Linked DNA regions of Homo sapiens. The protein of the gene in region 1 interacts with the protein of each later gene in a pairwise test. Each region holds a gene or a part of one and is shown in the gene's direction. Other genes may lie near its edges. The genes, in order: SLC16A7, SMAGP, SFXN1 and HMOX1.

The links.
Region 2: the proteins of SLC16A7 (region 1) and SMAGP interact in binary tests that used the Homo sapiens proteins (3 or more experiments, as listed by UniProt).
Region 3: the proteins of SLC16A7 (region 1) and SFXN1 interact in binary tests that used the Homo sapiens proteins (3 or more experiments, as listed by UniProt).
Region 4: the proteins of SLC16A7 (region 1) and HMOX1 interact in binary tests that used the Homo sapiens proteins (3 or more experiments, as listed by UniProt).

What each region holds. Positions count from the first base shown.
Region 1 is NC_000012.12:59,599,006-59,606,058, forward strand, and holds part of SLC16A7 (monocarboxylate transporter 2), read left to right. Parts: intron 1-7,053. UniProt on the Homo sapiens protein: Proton-coupled monocarboxylate symporter. Catalyzes the rapid transport across the plasma membrane of monocarboxylates such as L-lactate, pyruvate and ketone bodies, acetoacetate, beta-hydroxybutyrate and acetate.
Region 2 is NC_000012.12:51,260,385-51,267,437, reverse strand, and holds part of SMAGP (small cell adhesion glycoprotein), read left to right. Parts: intron 1-7,053. UniProt on the Homo sapiens protein: May play a role in epithelial cell-cell contacts. May play a role in tumor invasiveness and metastasis formation.
Region 3 is NC_000005.10:175,523,560-175,530,242, forward strand, and holds the end of SFXN1 (sideroflexin-1), read left to right. Parts: intron 1-3,078; coding exon 3,079-3,175; 3' UTR 3,176-6,183; downstream 6,184-6,683. UniProt on the Homo sapiens protein: Amino acid transporter importing serine, an essential substrate of the mitochondrial branch of the one-carbon pathway, into mitochondria.
Region 4 is NC_000022.11:35,391,087-35,394,751, forward strand, and holds the end of HMOX1 (heme oxygenase 1), read left to right. Parts: intron 1-2,381; coding exon 2,382-2,512; 3' UTR 2,513-3,121; downstream 3,122-3,665.

The sequences.
Region 1 (7,053 bases):
ACAGTTAGTAAGTGGTTGAGCTGGGGCAAGCACCGATGCGATCTGTTTGGCTTTAACCACTGTGTCATATAGCTTCTGCCTTGCATGAAGCTAAATAAGAGCAAAGACCTTACCTGTTGTTTTCTCCATAGCCCAGTACAGTGTCTGGCATGTCATGGTTCAGAACAACTGATTATAGAAAGAAGGAAAGAGGGAGGGAAGCAGAACTAGAGGGAAGGAGGAAGAGGAGGAAATAAAAATTAGCAAGTCCAAGTGTCTCCCGCCTTCAACACTGAATCTGGCAGGAAATCCAGCATGAACTCTGCCCTGAGAACACAATAGTTGAGGCTCTTTTGAGGATTCCTTTTCCTTGTCTTGCATCTAATCATCTAGTTTATGATGCTCATTTATGCAGAATAGGAAAATATTCTCTTTGGTTTGACAAATTAGCAAAAGGTGCCCATGAAGTGCAAACATCAAAGAGTGACCTACTCAAGGTGGACCAGGAAAAAAAAAGAAGGAAGAAATTAAAAGGGCAGACCATAATGCAGGGGCACTGGATTTAAATTTTAGTTAAGCCACTGGCTGGCTTTGTCTTATGCAATGTTGTGGTAGTACTTGTATTGTTGTTCTGAACACCAAAGACGATAACAAATATAAGCTGTTTTATACTGTGCCTGATAAATAGAATGGCATGCGGCAAAGAATAATTACATTCTGTTATTGCCCTTTGTTCCCCTCCTCCCTTCAACTCATCCCAAATAAAAAGTACCCTCCTGTTTTCCACATCTTGAAGTAATCTGTGTTCATCTGAACTACTTCGTAACTTGATCTGGGCTTCTCTTAGGCTGATTCTTATATTTTACCTTGAATTACAATTATTTGGGAAGGCATCCTATCTCTCTTCCTGGGCTACATGGTCTTTGAGAGTAGATGGTATATCTGATTCATCTTGGAACCTCTGTGGAGCTGCTGCTTGGGACAGGACAGGGCAGACGAGGGGCTCTGAAGTCCAGCCTGTCTGGGTTTTGATTTTAGCTTTGCCACTTATCAACAAAGACAAGTTGCTAGACCTCTTTAAGTCTCGGTTTCTTCATGTGTAAAAATAGAATAGTAACCAATTTTGTATATTGGTTGTAAACATTAAATGAGATAATATCTGTGAAATAGCACTGTGCTGAGCACATACATAGAAATAACTCAATAACTACTTTTAGGTATTAAATATTTGGCTTTATGTTTTTTAGTTTATCATAAGCATCACTGGCTTATTTTTAACAGATTTTTGGGAACTCTGAAATGCCAAACTTGCCATTAGATGGCACAACAAAGTTGAATTGCATAATAAACCATTAAGTGGACTCCCTTTGAGAAGTCATCCTGGTTTGTCACAGGCTTTCTCAAAACTGTTTGGATCAAAGTGATTAAGAAATATCTTGGGAAACATCTGCACACTAGCTCTCAGTGAATAATGGAACTTTTTTTTTTTTTTAACTTGTGAGAAAGCTTCATTTTCTCAGTTGCTGCTATAAATGGTGAATCCAGGGGCTGAGTCTACCTATGTGAGAGATCCAGCTGTTTAAAATCATAATATGAGAGACTAGCCTAAAATGGACCATTGTCGAGAGGAATAAATAACACTTATCACACGTATTTGGTAATTAGTAAATAAGTGGAGGGTCTTTATATATCAACTGTAATCATTAAAAATGTGGGAGAAAATTAAACAAATTGGAGCTGACTATAATAAAACTAGTCCAGCTGGAGCTGGACTAACTGGGACTTGGGTGCACCATAGACAATTTCAACATATTCACAAATATCAGTGTTGATAAATGAAGCAAGTATTTTTGGAAATAATTTTTCTGACCTAATACTAAAACTCCCGCAAATGTTTTCATTAATACTCATTGAAGTCTCAAAGGACCTCATGAAAATCCTATGGGACAACTGAACGACAGCTACAAGATACTGGCCTAAAGGTACTTTCGTTAAGTTCCACAAAAATGTCTGTATGGTTCAATTATAGAGCCTGGTGATTAGTTTTATGTAATAGTTGGCATTAAAATAGCAACTTTCAATAGAAAATATTTTGTGTAAGTGGTGAACACAAATGAAATATTTGTTTAGATAAATAAAGATCCATATACAGTGTTGGTATTTTGTAGAAAGCATTTTATTATAAGCATTTGCTGTTTCTCCACCTCATAATACAATATGTATCATTATTAATTAGTCAATACCTCTAATCAGATTTCTATTGAAGCTAATATGTAAAAGAATGGTACTTTTTACAAAGCAGCTGCCCTACTAAGTAATTAACTTGAATATCTATATCTTTTTTAACTAGATTAGATAAGAATAAAAAATAAAACTACAAAGCATGCATTTGATAAGTTTCTAAGGGATATTAACATTTATCTTATTTTAAAAATGATTTTCAAAATTTCTAGGATTTGAAGTTCCATCAGTTCTTCTCAAATATGTGAAAGGCAAATTCAGTGATAAATGGCAGTCGGTGACAGTATTTTTCAACAGGTGGGATTATTGGCATTTGGGGTGGGACACTTTTTCATTGTGTAGGACTGTCTCTTTCATTGCAGAGCATTGGGTGTCTGTGACCTTTCTGAGTAAATTTGGGCTGCGATAACAAACTATAGACAGATTAGGTAGCTTATGAACAACAGAAATTTATTTCTCACAGTTCTAGAGGCTGGAAATCTGAGATCAGGGTGCTGGCATGGTCCAGGTGTTGGTGAAGGCCTCTTCTGGGTTGTAGACTGCTGGTTTCTTATATCTTCACATGGTGGGATGAGAGTGAGAGCTCTCTTTTATAAGGGTGCTAATCCCATTCATGAGAGTTCCTTCCTTATGACCTACTTAACTCCCAAAGTCCCCATGTCTTAATACCACTCCTTTGGGGATTAGGACTTCAACATGAATTTTGGAGGCACACATTAAGTCCGTAACAATGATCTATCTCTGTTTTCTATAAGTCAGTGGCTTTCCCTTAGTCATTGTAACAATCAAAAATGCCTCTCTACATTTTAATATACCTGTGGTGGAATGGTGATCCATATGGTTGAAAACTGTCAGCCAATAAGATCAAATTGAGATTGTTTAAACAATTTATTTGGGATCAGAGTACTTTCAGAGTACTTTCAAAATTATTTTGCCTTTCATTAAAGGATGAAAATAATACTCTTGTATAAAAATATTTTGTTTTGAAACAATGAGTTCTTTATTAGTAAGGCATAACAACTGTTAACTTTAATAATCAGAGCATCATTGACCTCCTAGCCTCCAAATTATTTGCTTTGGACTGTTAATAACCTTTGGCAGTATTCATCCCTAATGCTTCTTGAACTCCTGTTTTGGCTTTCATGTGCTCTTTATTTTGTTACTTCTCTCACCGCTCATTTACTGCTTCTTCTCCAGCTCGCCTTTCACCTCGTATTCAATATAAGTATGTCTTCCCCAGTTTGTGTTTTGGGCTTTTTTTTTTTTTTTTTTTTTTGAGACAGGGTTTCACTGCAACACCCAGGCTTGGGTGCAATGACATGAACTTGGCTCACTGCAACCACCACCTCCTGAGTTCAAGTGATTCTCCTGCCCCAGCCTCCTGAGTAGCTGGGACTATAGGCGCCCACCATCACGTCTGGCTAATTTTTTGTATTTTTAGTAGAAATAGGGTTTCACCATATTGGCCAGGCTGGTCTCGAACTCCTGACCTCAAGTGATCTGCCCACCTTGGCCCCCAAAAGTGCTGGAATTACAGACATGAGCCACTGAGCCTGGCCAGACTTTTCTTTAGCCTGCATTCTGTTGATTGACAAAGCTCATCTGCTCTGGACCTCCGCTTTCACCTCAGTAGGAATAACTCCCAAGCCATTTGCTGTAGTCCTGACCTTCCCTCAACTTTTAGGCATTTCCAGACATTTCTAGATGTTTGCAGGACAGCTTCTCTTTACTGTGCTTTTGATACTTCCAGTATCCTGTGGTCTCTTCCTTCCTTTTTGTCTTCTTTCTTTCTGTCACCCCCATTCTTCATATTGATATCAGCAGTATTCTAGCCTAGAAGCTTTTGAGACCACCCTTTCTCTGGACTTGTGTACATCCAAAATAATTTTTTAATTATTTATTTCTATTCTGTTGTTGCCAGAAGTTTCAGGTGCTTTTGACATACTACCTACAGTCATGTAATAGTCTCTTAGTGGGTATTCCCACCTCTGGTCTCTCACCCTACCAGTTAATTCTGTACATGGTATCAGATACTCTCATGGAAGCACACCTTTGTTAAGTAACACTCCCATCACCTAGGTCCAAGGACTGACATTTCAGTCCCTGCATGATGTAAGTCCAAACAGCTGTTCCATGTTCATCTCCCACTACCATCATACTCAACTCAAATGGAACTGTCCTCATGCCTCGTTCATTCTCATTCTACTTCCTACCGCCAAATCTTTGGCCATGCTGTTCTTTTATCTTGAAATGAATCTAACGTCCTACGATTTCTAGCTCTAACCTCACCTTCTAAGAAGTTGAGCTTAAACACCACATACAAATTTTCCTCTGACACCTCTGGATAGGTAGAATAATTTTTCTAAAATTTCAGGAACATTATGTTTATAATGTCTTATTTGACATTGTATAATAGAATGTCTTGACATTCTATTATATTTGATTTTATATAATTATTCAGTTTCTTAATATACTATAAAGTTGTAGATGTCAGGAATAATAATGTATTCATATTTATGTCATCTTTAGCATTTTGGTGGATTATAGAGTTGCAAGAAACTTGGAGGACATCTGTTTCCACTTTTATGTGTTGTTTTCATTATGTTCAATAAACCACCATCTATTATTTAAGTGTACACACTGAGGCAGACTGTTCTTTTAAAGGCAGTTCTACTTGTGACTCAAATTTTCTTGTTTCTACCTAGGGTCTTTGTTCAGCTTCCTGGGGCCACATGAAATGAATCCCTTTCTCATTTGAATGACATACTCTACCAATGTGGTGACAGCTCACATGTCTTTTGTTTTCTCTATCAATTTAACATATTCAGTTTTTCTTCCTGTTTTTTGCATGTGACCTGGTTACATTCTTTATTTAAGGCTGCTGTATTGTGGAGTAATTCAACTTTAGGAAAGTCCACAAATGCATAGAATACTTCAAGGATAACAATGGTTTTGAATGTAAATATTGGAATTGTTTTTCATGATGTAACTTGTCAATATCTCTTCAGGTGTCAGGGTGGGAAATCAAGGTATATATAGCGATCTACCTCTGGGAGAATCCCATAGTTATCTCAGGGCTGAACTTTCCTTTCTGTGCCAACAGTTTAATAAATAAATAAATGAATAAACCACTGGAGGATGATAGGAAAGCTCACTTTAACTTTTGATTGTAATTGGAAATTAGCCACTCAGTAAAATTATACTCTTTTATAGATTAATGCCCTAAGTAGTAAAACAACAAACATGTCTTGTGTGTGTGTGTGTATAATAAGTGAATTTAAGGACATTGGACCAAATAAGTGGCTATTAAGTAAAGTTATAAAGATAAGCTTTAAGTAAGAATAGCTTACATTTGTTGAACACTTCTATATTTAATACCTTACATGTTTTAACTAATTTAATCCTCAAAACCTTATGAGGAAGCATTTTTGTTATCCTCATTTTACAGATGGGCAGAGTAGAGCACAGAGGTGAAGTATTTTGCCCAAGGTTACACATCTTGTCATTGGAAGGGTCTGGATTTTAATCTGTTGAACAAAATGTACCTTTTCAATAGTATTAATTTCAAGTATTTCATGCTGCAGTAAATTTTAAGACATTCTTGGGAAAAGTCCGATAATTTTATTTTTTTTCTTTTTTGAGACGGAGTCTCACTCTGTCACCCAGGCTGGAGTGCAGTGGCACAATCTTGGCTCACTGCCAGCTCTGCGTCCTAGGTTCATGCCATTCTCTCGCCTCAGCCTCCCAAGTAGCTGGGACTACAGGCGCCCGCCACCACGCCCGGCTAATTTTTGTTTTTGTATTCTTAGTAGAGATGGGGTTTCACCATGTTAGCCAGGATGGTATTGATCTCCTGACCTTTTGATCCTCCCACCTCAGCCTCCCAAAGTGCTGGGATTACAGGCAAAGTCTGATAAATATTTTTTCAAACAGAGACTAGTAGTCAGGTATAATGAGTTTGGGTCTGTTACAACATAAAGTCAACAGGAATGATAAGGCTTCCTTACTATTTGAAGGAGTTACCTGGAACCAAGCTAGAAAGCTTAGAGAAAGTAACAACCCCTTGTGGATTCAAGGAGGCTGGAGAACCAGTAGGGACCGAAGGAACAGTAAGTCCAGGATGTCATTCCTATAACTCAGTTTGCAAGGTGGTAGGGATAGAATACGTGGGAGGTGGCAAGACTCCCATGGAAGCCCTGTGCTGTGGGTATCAGTGAGTGCATGAACAGAGTAGGGTCTGGAGAATTCTCATAGATGGGTATATATCAAATTTACAGTGAAGAGGGATTTTGAATAAAGCCTCTGACATATTTTAAGGCATAGAATGCAGTACTTTAACAACTATTTATTCCCCTGCTGTGTTCCAGACACTGTTTTGGATGTTAGAGAGATGGCTGTAAATAGAACAGGTAAGTCCTTTTTAGTCTTGAGTTACACAGATATCAAATATATTCTCAAAGCAAGGTTAAGCAATTTATGTCCTTGAGCCAATTTTTTTTGTAGACCTCTCATGCCATCTTCTCTATGTAGCCAGTCTTATTCTGTAGTTATCTCTTTATTCTCTTTTCCTTTTTTCTCAATCTGTGTCACATGTCAGATCAGAGACTTTGAAGACAGATAGATATAGCCCAATGAAATTTCGACTAAGCTACTTCTAAGCTGTTTGACCACAGTCAAGGTATGTAACTTTTAGAGCCCCAGTTTTCTCATTTTGGAAATAATAAAATTTATTTTATGAGTTGTTGTTGGAGAAATAATGTAGGTAGTCAATAAATGATAATCATCATCATGTCATTTTTATCTCTACCTTTATTTTTGGCATATATTGAGGCA
Region 2 (7,053 bases), 8.3 Mb from region 1:
TGAGGAAGGGGATCTGAGTCTTGCCCTTGAAAGACGGACAAGGTTCATACAGGCAAAGGGGCGCAGCAGGTATCTTAGAGAAACGTAGAATACCTTTTTCGTGTGTACCTGCTCTAGATAAAGGTAGAATACCTCATACCATGTGTGAAGCTACAGAGACGATTTACCCTGGAGGATGTTCAGGAAGCGGGTGGGCAGAGGACCTCCAGAATAATCCTGCCCACAAGGGAAAAAAGGTGATACCTTGGCAGCTAGCTGAGGGATTAGAACCTTGGCAAGGGGGAGCTGTTTACATTTTTTAAATTTTATTATTATTATTTTTGAGACCAAGTCTTGCTGTGTCACCCAGGCTGGAGTACAGTGGCTTAATTTCGGTTCACTGCAACCTCCGCCCCCTGGGTTCAAGCAATTCTCCCACCTTAGTCTCCCTAGTAGCTGGAATTACAGGCGTGCGCTACCACGCCTGGCTAATTTGTATACTTTTAGTGGAGACAGGGTTTCGCCATGTTGGCCAGGCTGGTCTCAAACTCCTGGCCTCAAGTGATCTGCCCTTCTCGGCCTCCCAAAGTGCTGGGATTACAGGCTCATGCCATTTTTTCTTTTTTAAAATTTATGGTAAAATAAACATAGTACAGGTATTACCATTTTAGCCATTTTTTCGCAGACAATTCAGTGGTAGAGTAGTCCCCGCTTATCCACAGGGGATTCATTCCAAAAACCCCAGTGGATGCCTGAAATCTCAGATAGTACTGAACCCCATCTATACTGTGTTTTTTCCTGTACATACATACTTATGATAAAGCTTAACTTGTAAATTAGGCACAGTAAGAGATTAACAATAATAATAAAATAGAACAACTATAACAATATACTGTAATAAGAGTTATGTGAAAATGGTCTCTCTCACTTAAAATGTCTTATTTACTATAGATCTTAGAAACCTCAGTACACAGTTCTTTTTTTTTTTTTCTTAAGTCAAGAACTTTCACCTTTTCACTTAAAGGAAGCACTTCTTGTTGGCATGTCCAAATTGCATCACTATTCTTGTGCTTTGGGGCCACTGTCATGTAAAATAAGGGTTACTTGAACACAAGCGCTGTGGTACTCTACTAAGCGTTTATAGCATGGACACAAAAGGATGATTCACTTTCCAGGCAGGATGGAGCAGGGTGTGAGATTTCATCACGCTACTCAGAACGGTACATAATTTAAAATGTATGAATTGTTCCTTTCTGGAATTTTCTTTTTCTGTTAAATTTCTATTTAATGTTTTCGGACTGCAGTTGACCACGGGTAACTGAAACCTAGGAAAGCAAAACCGCAGATAAGAGGGGACTACTGTTGTTTTTTTTTTTTGAGACGGAGTCTCGCTCTGTCACCCAGGCTGGAGTGCAGTAGCGCCATCTCAGCTCACTGCAAGCTCCGCCTCATGGGTTCACGCCATTCTCCTGTCTTAGCTTCCCGAGTAGCTGGGACTACAGGCGCCCACCACCACGCCCGGCTAATTTTTTGTATTTTTAGTAGAGACGGGGTTTCACCGTGTTAGCCAGGATGGTCTTGATCTCCTGACCTCGTGATCCGCCCACCTCGGCCTCCCAAAGTGCTGGGATTACAGGCCAGTGCCTGGCCTGGGGGGACTACTGTATTAAGTAATTCATGTTCCTCACCACCATCCATCTCCAGAACTTTACCTTCCCAAACCGAAACTTGACACCCATTAAACACTGATTCCCCATTTCCCTGCAAACACCGTTCTATTTTCTGTCTATGTAAATTTGACTGCTCTAGGTACTTCATGTAAGTAGAATCATACAATAGACCTTTTGTGTCTGGCTAACTTCACTTAGCATAATATTCTCAAAGTTCATCCATATTGTAGCATGTCACAATTTCCTACTTTTTCAAGGCTGAATAATATTGTTGTATGTGTATATTACATTTTGTTTATCCATTCATCTATGATGGACAGTTGAGTTGCTTCCACCTTTTGGCTATTGTGACTGATGCTGCCATAAACATGGGTGTACAAATATCTTCTTGAGACCCTGCTTTCAGTTGTTTGGGATGTATGCTCAGAAGTGGAATTGCTATATCATGTGGTAATTCTGTGTTTGATTTTTTTGAGGATCCACCATATAGGTTTGCACAGCAGCTGCACCATTTTATATTCCTACCAGCAATGCATAAAGGTTTCAGTTTCTCTACAACCTTGCCAACACTTGTTACTTTCTGTTTAATGGTAGTCATCATATTGTGTGTGAAGTGGTATCTCATTGTGGTTTTGATTTGCATTTCCCTAGTGATAGTGATGTGGAGCATCTTTTCATGTACTTATTGACCATTTGTATATCTTTGGAGAAATGTCTATTCAAGTCTTGTCCCATTTTTTAGTTGATTTGTTTTGTTCTTGTTCAGTTGTATATTTATATCCTTTAAAAATTTTTTTTAAAAAATTGATCGTTGAATCAGTCCTCTCTCTCTTTCTCTTTTTTTTTTTTTTTTTCTGGCGATGGAGTCTTGCTCTGTCACCCAGGCTGGATTGCAGTGGCACCATCTCGGCTCACTGCAACCTCCACCTCCCGGGTTCAAGCAATTCTCCTGCCTCAACCTCCTGAGTAGCTGGGATTACAGGCACACGCTGCCACACCCGGCTAATTTTTTGTATTTTAGTAGAGACGGGGTTTCACCATGTTGCCCAGGCTGGTCTCAAACTCCTGAGCTCAGGCAATCCGCCTGCCTTGGCCTCCCAAAGTACTAGGATTACAGGCATGAGCCACTGTGCCTGACCTTTTTTTTTTTTTTTTTTTTTTAAGAGATGGGATCTTACTCTGTTGCCCAGGCTGGAGTGCAGTGGCACAATCCTGGCTCACTACAGACCCAAACATCTGGGCTTGAGGGATCCTCCCACCTCAGACTCCTGAGCAGCTGGGACTGCAGGCGTGCACCATCACGCCCAGCTAATTTTAAAATTTTTTGTAGAGATAGGGTTTTGCTATGTTGCTCAGGCAACTCTCCCGGCCTGAAGCCATGCTCCTTCCTCTGCCCCTGAGTTGTTGAGATTATAGGCGCAAGCCACCTCACCTGGCTGCATTCTTGATCCAGCGAGTGACATGAGTGAAGTAGTGATTTAGGACAGTCTCCTATCCACTGGGTCCAAGCAAGTGTAAGTTCAGAGACAGCAATAGACAAAAGAATAGAAATCACAGATAGGAAGAAAGCTTATACTTTAAATGATGGGATCACTAAAGGCCAGCTCTTCTCTTCTACCCCTGTCTTGCATTTCTCTTCCCCCACCTTCCCACCTATTCCTCCCTCACAGTCTATAAAGACTTCCTAGAGAAGATATCCTCCAGGAACCTTGAAAGGAAGGGCCACATTATGACTCCTGAGCCCTGGGCACTTCTGTCTTTGTGGGCTCCTCCTTCACTTAAAAAAATATTAAAAATCATATTTTACAACTGCATCAGTGTAAGGAAGAATATAATATAATATAATTAATATTTATAATTAGTAATTGAATGGCATAACAACCTTAATATTTCTTTGACCTAAAATTTTGTTTCTTTTCCTTCTTCTAATTATAAAAGAAATGAAAATTATTTAAAACATTTTCATGGGCCTTTCGAAGCATTGTGGGCCCAGGGCACTGTGCCTGTTGTGCCTAGTGCATAAGTCAGCCCTATTCGAAGTAGGGCAGAGTGGAACTGTGCCTTGTGGGCTTTGCCCACCGTGCCAGGTAAAGCTCATCTCTTGCCACCAAATGATCACACCAGCTACCGCCTAGGTTGTCCTCACCCTGTATTAGACACTTAGCATTTTTCTTTATTTTATTTTAAAAATAATTTTTTGTAGAAATAAGGTCTTACTGTGTTGCCCAGTCTGGTCTCAAACTCCTGGCCTCAGGTGATCCTCCCATCTCAGCCTCCCAAAGCAGCATTTTTCATTGCACTTATTCCTCACCACAACCCAATGAAACAAGTTTTAGTCTCATTTTACGGAAGGAAAAACTGAAGTTCAGGGGAGTTAAGGAATTTTCTTTTCTTTTTTTTTTTTTGAGATGGAATTTCCCACTTGTCACCCAGGCTGGAGTGTAGTGGTGCAATCTCGGCTAACTGCAACCTCTGCCTCCCGGGTTCAAGCAATTTTCCTGCCTCAGCCTCCCGAGTAGCTGGGACTATAGGCGCCCACCACTATGCCCAGCTAATTTTTGTATTTTTAGTAGAGACAGGGTTTCACCATGTTGGCCAGACTGGTCTCGAACTTCTGATCTCAAGTGATTCACTCACCCCGACCTCCCAAAGTGCCGGGATTACAGGCATGAGTCACCGTTAAATTTTCAAAGATTAAAAAAATTTCCCAAGGTCACACAGCTAGTAATGGCAGAGGCAGGATTTTGCGCCAAGTCTGATTTACTGCAAGCCTGTGTTCTTTCTGTCATGGTGTACTGCTCCCAAGGTCTCACTCCACCCAACTGGCTGGTGCACATGAAAGAGAAGGCAGAAGAAAGGGGGCCGAGTCCCAGGGTGGCTTCCCATGGAAAGAACTCGGGGAGCCGCCCTCTGCTGGGCAGGTCTAGAGCAAATAAGTAGGCTGGCAGACTTAGGTGGCAAAAGATCTGATGCCTCAGTGATAAGAGATTTAGCTCAAGCTGGGAACAAGGACCACAAAGAAGCCAGCCAGTATCTGGGTTAACAAAAAAAAGAGTAAGTGAACAGAATAGATCTTGAAGGTCATTTGCTATTGGTTAGGACTTGGGTGGGGCCTTCAATCTTATGAACCTGAGCAGGGAAGGTTTGGAAAGACTGTAGTGCTATTTAATAATTATTCCTTTGTTTGGACAAAAAAATGGGGTAGAAACGGGAGAGAATGGGGGAAAAGCTATAAGCCATTTCCTCCTTTTATGCCAGCTTTCCTGAACTTAGTTTATTTTGTTGTTGTTTGTCCTTTTTTTCTTTTTTTGAGACAGGGCCTCAGTTTCACCCAGGCTGTAGAGCAGTGGCTCAATCACAGCTCACTGCAGCCTCAACCTTCCCAGACTCAGGTGATCCTCCCACCTCAGCCTCCCAAGTAGCTGGGATCACAGGTGCGTGCCACCATGCCCAGTTAATTTTTGTATTTTTTGTAGAGACAGGGTTTTGCCATGTTGCCCAGGTTGGTCTTGAACTCCTGGACTCAAGTGATCCTCTGGCCTCAGCCTCCCAAATTGCTGGGATTATAGGTGTAAGCCACCTTGCCAAGCATGTTCTTTTATTTGAAAGGTAATACATGCCCCTCAGAGAACAGCTTTCTAGACCTTTTCTATGTACAAACATATATATGCATATTTATAGGGTTTTTTAAAGTTACTTAAAAAAAAATACACAGAGAGACAGGGGTCTCGCTATGTTGCCCAGGCTGGACTCAAACTTCTGGCCTCAAGCAATCCTCCCACCTCAGCCTCCAAAAGTGCTGGGATTATGGGTGTAAGCCACTGCACTCTGCCAATTTACTTTTTTTTTTTTTTTTAAACAAAGATGCAGTCCTACTACATATACCACCTGGCAGTTTGCTTTTTTCATCTAACCATGTATCCTGTCCCAGTAATATTGTAGATCTCATATTCGTTTTAGCAACTGTTTCCACAATGGATGGCCTGTAATTTATTTCATCATTCCTCTCCAGATAGACATTCTAAGTATGTCTGGATTTTTTATTTTAAAATTTGATTTTAATGAGAATTCTAATAGAACACTTTCCATTTATAAAAATTCAAAAATTAAGGCTGAGAGGGGTTCTGATGCTCAGCTAGTTCAACTAACCATTCTGTCCTAGAATTCTCTCTCCAAGATGCTACGTAGCTTTTGTCCAGTTTTGCTCTTCCTTCTGTTGGGGAGACATCTGTCTTTCCCAGTTTCTGCTGTTAGTTCTCTTGTACAGGTCATGCCTTGGCATATTAGAAGACAGAATTCAAGCTCTAGGCTCCCTTTTTTTTCTCTGGGCTTTCTCTTGCAAGCTTTCCTTATCTGACATGGTTTGCCTGCTCACTTCAAAATTGTGACACCCAGGCCGGGTGTGGTGGCTCATGCCTGTAATCCCAGCACTTTGGGAGGCCGAGGTGGGCAAATCACAAGGTCAAGAGTTCGAGACCAGCCTGGCCAACATGGTGAAACCCTGTGTTTACTAAAAATACAAAAAATTAGCTGGGCATAGTGGCGGGTGCCTGTAATCCCAGCTACTTGGGAGGCTGAGGCAGGAGAATCGCTTGAACCTGGGAGGCGGAGGTTGCAGTGAGCCAAGATTGAGCCACTGCACTCCAGCCCAGGTGACAGAGTGAGACTCCGTCTCAGAAAAAAAAAAAAAAAAAAATTAAGGCTGGGCACGGTGGCTCACACCTGTAATTCTAGCACTTTGGGAGGCCAAGGTAGGTGTATCACGAGATCAGGAGTTCGAGACCAGCCTGACCAACATGGTGAAACCCCCTCTCTACTAAAAATACTGTAATCCCAGCACTTTGGGAGGCTGAGGCGGGTGGATCACGAAGTCAGGAGATCGAGACCATCCTGGCTAACATGGTGAAACCCCGTCTCTACTAAAAATACAAAAAAATCAGCTGGGCGTGGTGGTGGGCGCCTGTAGTCCCAGCTACTCGGGAGGCTGAGGCAGGAGAATCGCTTGAACCCAGGAGGCAGAGGTTGCAGTGAGCCGAGATCACGCCGCTGCACTCCAGCCTGGGCCAGAGAATGAGACTCCGTCTCAAAAAAAAAAAAAAAAAAAAAAAATTGGCCGGGCGCGGTGGCTCACGCCTGTAATCCCAGCATTTTGGGAGGCCAAGACGGGTGGATCACGAGGTCAGGAGATTGAGACCATCCTGGCTAACACGGTGAAACCCTGTCTCTACTAAAAAAATACAAAAAATTAGCCGGGCGTGGTGGCGGGCACCTGTAGTCCCAACTACTCAGGAGGCTGAGGCAGGAGAATGGCGTGAACCTGGGAGGCGGAGCTTGCAGTGAGCCGAGATTCTGCCACTGCACTCCAGCCTGGGTGACAGAGCGAGACTCCGTCTCAAAAAACAAC
Region 3 (6,683 bases), on another chromosome or scaffold:
ATGTAGCTGTAATTATTTTCAGATTGAAAGGGTTTTAGATTTGAAAACCCATAGAGAAACTTTCTACTTTGGCCTTTTTTCTTTGAGTGCTGCAAGAAATAAAATATAGCCCAACATTTATTTTTTATGATTCATTGAAACTCTAGGGGTAGAAATGGAAAGCTTTCTGTAACTACTAGTGTCCTTAGGTCAAGGCCCTCAGAAAGCGTGTGGTTTTACATTTGAGAAACCAATCCTCTTTTGTTTTACTGTATTTTAAAATAGCTTCTTACTCTGTTTTGTTGTTTATACATTGTATGTTTGGCTTCTTGAGGTCTCTGGCTCCTCAGTTTTTCCTTGGCTCATAACATAGTATCCTCATTGATCCAAGCATGACCCTGTTTTGCTTATTTTTATTTTACTTATACTAATAATATAATGAATATCCACAAATTCAGTGCCCAATGAGGCAGGAGAATCGCTCGAACCCAGTAGGCAGAGGCTGTGGTGAGCCAAGATCACGCTACTGCATTCCAGCCTGGGCAACAGTGCGAGATTCTGTCTCAAAAAAAAAAAAAAAAAAAAAAATATATATATATATATATATATATATATATATATATATATATATATCTCCAATAAGTTACATCTTATAGGCTCCTCCCAACCTGTGTCCCTGCCTCCCCTGCAGATTTAACCACTATGCTGAATTTCATGCTCTTGCATTTTATATTTGTGTATGTATCTTTAGTTTGTCTTAGGAACTTTTTAGACAAGGGTGTCACACTGTCATAAGATGTATAGTCTTCTAGTACTTGTTCTTTTTATTCAGTGTCAGAACTAAGATTCATCTACATTATTGTGTGTACCTATAGTCCATTCATTGTTGTTGTTGTATAATAGTGCATTGTATGAATGCACCACAGTTTCCCGTCTCCTATGTGAACAAGTGATAATGAAAACATTCTTTATTAACATTTTTGAGAAGCAGCAAATGTGTTGCTTTGAGAGATATTTATAGCTTTAAATGTTTATATTATGAAGAATAGCTGAAAATCAATGCACTAAATGTCCCAACTTAAAAAAAAAAAAGCACAAAAGAATAAACATCAGAAAAGAAGGAAGGAAGGAGATGAAGATCAGAAATCAATAAAATAAATAACAGAAAGAGTAGAGGATCAACAAAGTGAAATCTTGGTTCTTTGAAAATAGAAACAAAATAGACAGTTGTCTGGTGAGATTAATCAAAACAAAAAGAGAAAGAGAAAAGTACAAATAATATGAATGAAAAAGAGGTATAACTGTAGGTTCAGCAGTGATTAAAAATAATACCAACATTATACCAACAGATTTGAAAACAAGCAAAATAGACAAATTTCTGGAAAAAATATTAGCAAAGCTGAAAAATTAGAAAGTCAGAATAGGCCAGATAGTCATTAAGGAAGCTGAAGCAGCATTTAATCTTCCTCCTACAAAGAAAACACAAGAAACAGGTAGTTTTACAGGTAAGTTTCTCCCAACTGTCAAGAAACAGATTATTCCAATTTCAAACAAACTCTCCTGGAAGATAAAAAAGAGAATACTCCCCATCATCCACCAAGGTTTGAATAACTTTAATTCCAAGATCAGACTTGGGCCTTTAACATACATTCATAGTAATTACAGATACTTAGAGATCAGTGGCAAAACAGAAAGACCAAGAGGTGGTATAGCAGGGCTTTGGGATCAAGAAAGATCTGCCTTCAACATCTCAGTTGCACCTCAGGTTTCCTTACCTGTACAATTATAATACTGGACTTACAGAGTTTTCCTAAGGGTTAAAATGCATAACGTCTGGCCCAGCAAGTGAGCTGTAAGTCATAGCCATTATCATTACCATCATCAGTGTCGTCATCATCATTTAAAATCACTCAAAGGCCCACTACATAAACAATAGCCATCATGGGATTTTTTTTCCTACCTTTTTTCTATATTCGTAATTTTTAAAATTTGTTTTGCATATTTTAAATATAAGCTTATATCCTGACTTTTTTTAACCTTACAGTCTATCACATGTCAACTATATTAATCAATTTTTTTATTGTTTTTGAGGCAGGGTCTCACTCTCTTGCCCAGGCTGGAGTGCAATGGCACAGTCATAGCTCACTACAGCCTTGAACTTCTGGGCTCGAGCAACCCTCCTGCCTCAGCATCCTGAGTAGCTGGAGCCACAGGCATACACCAACACACCTGTCTTATTTTTTATTTTTATAGATACAAAAATTTGGGTCTCACCAGGTTGCCCAGGCTGGTCTCAAACTCCTGGCCTCAAGAAATCCTCCTGGTTCAGCCTCACAAAGCTCCGAGATTACAGGTGTGAGCCACTGCGCCCAGCCTCAAATATTTTTTTTAAACTAATTACATATCAAAATATTAGCAGTTTTTCTGGTAGGTATTCTGGACAATTTTTCTTTATACTTTAATGAGTGTGCGTTTCTCTTAAAGAATAAGCTTTAATATATATACACCCATAATACCTTCAAATACATTTTTAAGCACTTAAAGACTAACAGTGGTTATCTCTCAGCGGGATTATAAATGTTTTGGTTTTTTTTTTTTTTTTGTACATTTTAGTATTTTTTGAAATTTTTTTAATAAGCGTGTATTACATACAGTAAACAAAAGCACATTAATGTAGGCAGATTATCAATGTTATGCATTTCACTGATTGCATATCTCTTTTTTTATCAATGGTGAACATTGCAAATGATTGATACGTTTTTCTTAGGAAGTGGCATTGCCACAAATGGTTTTTCCAACACCAGCAGGGCCTGAGAGTGTCATCACCATACACTCTTGCCGGCAATAAGAGATTTCACCTTTTAATGATATGAGAGGGAAAAGTTGGGTGTTGGGTTCTCCAGTGCATTTCTTTCATTATGAGTGACATTTTTCTGAAAGGAACGTGATCTCGTTTTCTAGCCGCATGAAGCATTTCTCCAACAAGACCCACTGTACCAGTCCTGGGATCTCCACACCTGTGCCTTCTCCCTGCTCTTTCTAGGTCCTGATTCTCACCTCTGCCTGTGTAATAACCCTGTCATTTCTCCCTTATCCCAGTTCCATGTCTGTGACAAGCTTGGAGGCCGAGTTGCAAGCTAAGATCCAAGAGAGCCATCCTGAATTGCGACGCGTGTACTTCAATAAGGGATTGTAAAGCAGGGAGGAAACCTCTGCAGCTCATTCTGCCACTGCAAAGCTGGTGTAGCCATGCTGGTGAGAAAAATCCTGTTCAACCTGGGTTCTCCCAGTTACGGAAACCTTTTAAAGATCCACATTAGCCTTTTAGAATAAAGCTGCTACTTTAACAGAGCACCTGGCGTGGGCCAAGTGCCTGATACTCCCTTACACTGAATCATGTTATGATTTATAGAAATACCTTTCCTGTAGCTTTTATAGTCATTGTTTTTCAAAGACGATATACCAGCCCTCACCCAGGTTTTAAAAAAGCACTGGTAGGCATAGAATAGGTGCTCAGTATATGGTCAGTAAATGTTCTATTGATTATCAATCAGTGAAAAAAGAAATCTGTTTAAAATACTGAATTTTCATCTCACTCCCATTGCAAATCAAGGAGATCTCAGCAGTGAACTGGGAAAATACAAAAGCTCTGGGCTAATCTATAAAAACTTACCCTGAAATATTAAGGGCAGTTTGCTTCTAGTTTGGGGATTGCGCTAGCCCAATGAAGGTGATGAAGCTTTTGGATTTGGAGGGTAAAAGCTCCTTCACACCCCTTCCAAAAGTCAGTCACAGACCACTGCAACATGCCTTCCCTGCTGGATCATTATATACATTCAGATTGTGAGTGGATTGCCTTGGTTGACTTTTAATTTATTGTTTTTTGTTCTTATAAAGATGATAATCTTACCTTGCAGTTATTGACTTTATATTCAATTATTTACATCAAATAATGAAATAACTGAAATGTACAAATGTCAAATTTTGGAAGTATATTCAATACCAATGCTGTATGAGTGGGCTGAATCCAGTTCATTGTTTTTTTTTTGGTAAGAAGTGAGACTACAGTTCCAGCTACCTACATGTCTTTTCTTGTCATCCTTATAGATCTCTTTGGCTTTCAGAAAGATACAGTGATAATGTGTGTATGAATCAGTCACAATGAATTTTACTTGAATATTGTATGTTGCATTCCACTTCATTTGAAAATAATGAAACCATGTACCACTGTTTACATCATCTGTAGTGATTTCATAGATAATATATTTAATATGACAGATTATGTTTCAACTCTGTAGATGTTTAACGTCATAGACAGTTGGCCCTCTGTATCCGTGAGCTCTATATCTGTGAATTCAACCAAGTTTGGATGGAAAATTTTTTTTTTTTTTTTTTTTTTGAGACGGAGTCTCGCTCTGTCACCCAGGCTGGAGTGCAGTGGCGTAGTCTCGGCTCACTGCAAGCTCCGCCTCCCGGGTTCACGCCGTTCTCCTGCCTCAGCCTCTCTGAGAAGCTGGGACTACAGGCGCCCGCCACCACGCCCGGCTAATTTTTTTGTATTTTTAGTAGAGACGGGGTTTCACTGTGGTCTCGATCTCCTGACCTCGTGATCCGCCCGCCTTGGCCTCCCAAGGTGCTGGGATTACAAGCGTGAGCCACCGCACCCGGCCTGAAAATATTTTCTAAAAAGATAAAAAATATACATAACGATGAAAAATAATACAAATTTAAAAACCAATACAGTATAACAACTATTTACATAGTGCTTACATTGTATTAGGTGTTATAAGCAATCTAGAGATGATTTAGCAAGTATACAGGAGGATGTGCCTAGGTTATATGCAAATACTGTGCCATTTTATATCAGGAACTTGAGCATCTGCAGATATTGGTATCGGAGGGCGGTCCTGGAACCAAGCATCCACGGATACTGAGGGGTGACATTTCATGAAGTGTAGATCATTGTATTCAGAGATTGTAAATGAAAAAAATATAGAAACTATTTAGTTTTGGTAGATTTTTTTTCTGACAATGTGACCAGACTGAATTTCCTCATAAAGAAAAAATGGCGTGCCTTGTGTCTGTGTTTCTCTTTTCTCTGAAAGGATTAATAGATCTGAAGCTTTGGGCCACTCAGAGCCTTCCTTGATGCTGCCAGAGTCTTCTTATTTAGATTTTCTGTCTTAAACCATTGGAAGCAAAACGGTTTTCCCATGACATTCTGGCCTTGGACAGATTCTGTTGTCCTCGACGCGTCTCTTTATAAAGTGGTAAAAGCCTGAAATTCAGGGCAGCTCTCCATGAGGTGCTGAAGGGCTCTTTTCATAAGAAGCTAAGGCACTGCTGCCTGCCCCAGGTGTCCCGCTCCTCTCAGAGTCCTCCCCCTACCAGGTAGTGTGTAGCTCCATTTCAGAATGTTAACCTCCAGTGAAGAGCTAATGACTGGTTAGAAGATTGACAAACTAACCAAAATTTTACACACTCCGGTTATGTGTGTGAAAGGTTATAAAAGGAATGGCCGGGTGCGGTGGCTCACCCCTGTAATCCCAGCACTTTGGGAGGCCGAGGCGGGTGGATCACCTGAGGTCAGGAGTTTGAGACCAGCCTGGCCAACATGGAGAAACCCCGCCTCTACTAAAAATACAAAAAATTAGCCAGGCATGGAGGCACATGCCTATAATCCCAGCTACTCGGGAGGCTGAGGTAGGAGAATCGCTTGAATCCGGGAGCTGGAGGTTGCAGTGAGCCAAGATCGCACCATTGCACTCCAGCCTGGGCAACAAGAGCGAAACTCCATCTCAAAAAAAAAAAAAAGAGATTATAAAAGGGATGATGAACATGGAGCTGCATCTTTTTAAACGTTGTTTTTTGATGCTTCAGACTCTTAATGCTTTTATATAAAGCTATCAACTGTATGTTGATCACAGTTTATAAGAAAGAACAAATCAAGATTGGCAATCCTTGCCGATCTTTTAGAAATACCTTTTCTGGAGAAAAAAAAATCCACATGAAGTGCAATAAGCTTATAAAGCTAAGTAGTTATTAATATTTCTATTAACATGATACAAAGGATGATGATTGTAAGTGTTTACTGACTGGCAGCTTTTATTTCAGTATTAGCACAGCGTCTTGCCAGTGTTGGAGGCCATGTATTATTTCAGTTCAACTGGATGAAATGTTAAATAAACTCAGAATGAAAATAAATTCTCTCTTTTATTTGTACATAAAGGATAAAGCAGTTTGTGTGTTACAACTGATGGTACTTTTCATTCAAAGTTAATATCTACAGTACCATCAGCAACTCCTAATGAAAAGATATTTTTGTATTATGCCTTTAACAAGAAATATATTTCTATTTTGGGCTACCAGTCTCCCACCTTTTTGAACCTCATATACATAAAGGCACACCCACCCACCCCCCAAACTCCTATGACAATGTGATTCCAGGAATATTAATGATGGGCGTGGGGGATGGATTTCAGCTTGAAACTTGGATGGCCAACACCTCTGCACATGACGGTGATGGAAACATGCTTCTATATTATTGATCTGATTCTAACCTGGCACTGGCATTTACTAACAGAGAAAGTCTAAATTAACCTAAGTTTGGGGAGTGCCTTAATAAAAGACTTGATACAGAGCTGAGCATTTTAACTTCCTTGGCCATGTTTCTGCATTTGTTTTGCTACAGTAACTCTGTTGTC
Region 4 (3,665 bases), on another chromosome or scaffold:
TCACTTGTGCCAGACCACACGGACCCCTCTGCTAGGGGTTTGTAACCCCGGAGGGCTTGGCTATTTGGTGGGGTAGGGAGACGTCACCCTAATGAAGCAGTTCTCAAAGTGTGGTACCCTGGCTGTGGGAGGTGGTAATCCTAGTATCCCCTCAACGGGGTCTGTGAGGACAAAGCATTTTTATAACACTACTACTATTTTTTTGGTTTTTTTTTTTTCGTTTGAGACAGTCTTGCTGTCACCCAGGCTGGAGTGCAGTGGCATGATCTCGGCTCACTGCAAGCTCCGCCTCCCAGGTTCACGCCATTCTCCTGCCTCAGCCTCCCGAGTAGCTGGGACTACAGGTGCCCGCCACCATGCCTGGCTAATTTTTTGTATTTTTAGTAGAGACGGGGTTTCACTGTGTTAGCCAGGATGGTCTCGATCTCCTGACCTTGTGATCCGCCCGCCTCGGCCTCCCAAAGTGCTGTAATTACAGGTGTGAGCCACCGCGCCCGGCCTTTTTTTTTTTTTTTTTTTTTTTTTGAGACAGGGTCTCGCTCTTTCACCCAGTCTGGAGTGTAGTGGCACAATCACAGCTCACTGCAGCTTCAACCTCCCAGGTTCAAGGGATTCTCCCACCTCAGCCTCCTGAGTAACTGGGACTATAGGCACGTGCCACCACACCCAGATTTTTTTTTTTTTTGGCTTTTTTTAAAAAAGCCAAAAATAAATGAGAAAATTAGAGTTTCACTTTCTCATGAATGTGTGTTGGCATTTTCCAAAGGTTATGTGACATGTGATGCTCTCTCATGGATTTGATGGCTCATGGAATGTGTGCCTGTATGTTCTTGTATGTTAAGAATTTCTCAGTTTTGGCCGGGCACGATGGCTCATGCCTGTAATCCCAGCACTTTGGGAGGCTGAGGCACGGGGATCACTTGAGGTAAGGAGTTTGAGACCAACCTGGCCAATGTGGTGAGACCCCATCTCTACTAAAATATAAAAATTAGCTGGGTGTGATGGTGCACACCTGTAATCCCAGCTACTCGGGAGGCTGAGGCAGGAGAATCTCCTAAGTCCGGGAGGCAGAGGTTGCAGTGAGCCGAGATTGCACCACTGTACTCCATCCTGGGCGACAGCGAGACTCCATCTCAAAAAAAAAAAAAAAAGAAAGAAAAGAAAAGAAAAAGAATTTCTCAGTTTTAATATCTAATTTTGTAAATAGTGATAGCTATACTCACACAAACAAAAGCTCTTTTGGATCCTTGGTTGCATTTGAGTATAAAGGAGTTTTGGAACCAAAACATTTGAGAACTGCACCCCTAATGCATCAGAAGGAGCAGGAGCCTTTAATATGAACAACACACATGTAAATGTCACAGTGTACCTGCTTGCTTGCTTGCTTGCTTGTACTTCCTGTGACCGCAGCCCTGGGCCACCAGACCTAAGGCCCTGTTTTCTCTGGGGAAGCCCTTCTCATAGCCCAGGGCGGGGCTAGGATTGAAACCCAGCTGGTCTGGCTCCAGAGACCTGCCCTGGACTCTGTCCTGCTTCTAAAGACCTAGGGAGCACCCACTCTGTGCCTGAGGAGGCAGGTGGCACATCTACCCAGGTTGCATGGTTGGCTCTGGCCTATCATGTTTTAAATCTTTTTTTTTTTTTTTTTTGAAATGGAGTCTCACTCTGTTGCCCAGGCTGGAGTACAGTGGCGCAATCTTGGCTCACTGCAACCTCTGCCTCCTGGGTTCAAGCAATTCTCTGCCTCAGCCTCCCGAGTAGCTGGGATTACTGGCACTCGCAACCATACCCGGCTAATTTTTTGTATTTTTAGTAGAGACGGGGTTTCACCATATTGGCCAGGCTGGTCTTGAACTCCTGACCTCGTGATCCACCTGCCTTGGCCTCCCAAAGTGCTGGGATTACAGGCGTGAGCCACTGCGCCCGGCCCTATCACATTTTAATAACCAGGGATGGGACTGAACTTGAATTTTGACCTCAGAGCTCCTGCTTTCTAGCTCCTGCCCCATCATCACCATGCTTAGCAAACGTGTGAGTTTGAGAGGAAGATTTACAGCTCAGACCTAATTGCTGGCAAAGTTTAAGGAGAGGACAGGGAGCAGGCAGAAGTCTGAAAACCACGCCTGGGCCCAAGAATGTTTTCACAATGTGGCCTGGCTGCACAGGGAAGAACAGACAGCTTGAAGAAGTAGTGAGCTGCCCGTCTTTGAAGGTATTCAAGCAGTGGCTAGAGGGACACCTGTCTGTGGTCTTGCAGAATCCTGGCGTTGGGCAGTGACTGTACCACAGACCCTGAGGCCGCTCTGCTTTGCTTTCCTATGACATCAGACACCCTGATGCACGCCCACCTGTTAATGACCTTGCCCCATTTTCTCTTTCAGATTCTGCCCCCGTGGAGACTCCCAGAGGGAAGCCCCCACTCAACACCCGCTCCCAGGCTCCGCTTCTCCGATGGGTCCTTACACTCAGCTTTCTGGTGGCGACAGTTGCTGTAGGGCTTTATGCCATGTGAATGCAGGCATGCTGGCTCCCAGGGCCATGAACTTTGTCCGGTGGAAGGCCTTCTTTCTAGAGAGGGAATTCTCTTGGCTGGCTTCCTTACCGTGGGCACTGAAGGCTTTCAGGGCCTCCAGCCCTCTCACTGTGTCCCTCTCTCTGGAAAGGAGGAAGGAGCCTATGGCATCTTCCCCAACGAAAAGCACATCCAGGCAATGGCCTAAACTTCAGAGGGGGCGAAGGGATCAGCCCTGCCCTTCAGCATCCTCAGTTCCTGCAGCAGAGCCTGGAAGACACCCTAATGTGGCAGCTGTCTCAAACCTCCAAAAGCCCTGAGTTTCAAGTATCCTTGTTGACACGGCCATGACCACTTTCCCCGTGGGCCATGGCAATTTTTACACAAACCTGAAAAGATGTTGTGTCTTGTGTTTTTGTCTTATTTTTGTTGGAGCCACTCTGTTCCTGGCTCAGCCTCAAATGCAGTATTTTTGTTGTGTTCTGTTGTTTTTATAGCAGGGTTGGGGTGGTTTTTGAGCCATGCGTGGGTGGGGAGGGAGGTGTTTAACGGCACTGTGGCCTTGGTCTAACTTTTGTGTGAAATAATAAACAACATTGTCTGATAGTAGCTTGAAGTAGTTTTCATGGGCTTTGTTATTCTTGGGGAACTGACCTTTTCCTCCCTGGTTTCTTGCGTGCTCGGTAGGAGAAGTGGTGATAGGGGGTTGGCAGGAGCTGGTCTGTTTGAGAATACAGAAGGTGAGCTTTTCTTTTCTTTTTTTTTTTTTTTGAGATGGAGTCTCACTCTGTCACCCAGGCTGGAGTGCAGTGGCGTGATCTTGGTTCACTGCAAGCTCCACCTCCCAGGTTCAATCAATTCTCCTGCCTCAGCCTCCTGAGTAGCTGGGATTACAGAAGTTCATCACCATGCCCAGCTAATTTTTGTATTTTTAGTAGAGATGGGGTTTCCCCATGTTGGCCAGGCTGGTCTCGAACTCCCGACCTCAGCTGGTCCACCTGCCTCAGCTTCCCAAGGTGCTGGGATTACAGGCGTGAGCCACCGTGCCTGGCCCAGGAGGTGAGCTTTAAGTAGCTGGTGGGCGAATATTTGTGTTGAACCCTGCTTGATGCAATTCTCGACTTTATGGAAGATGGGGTTGCCCTGTTTGGTG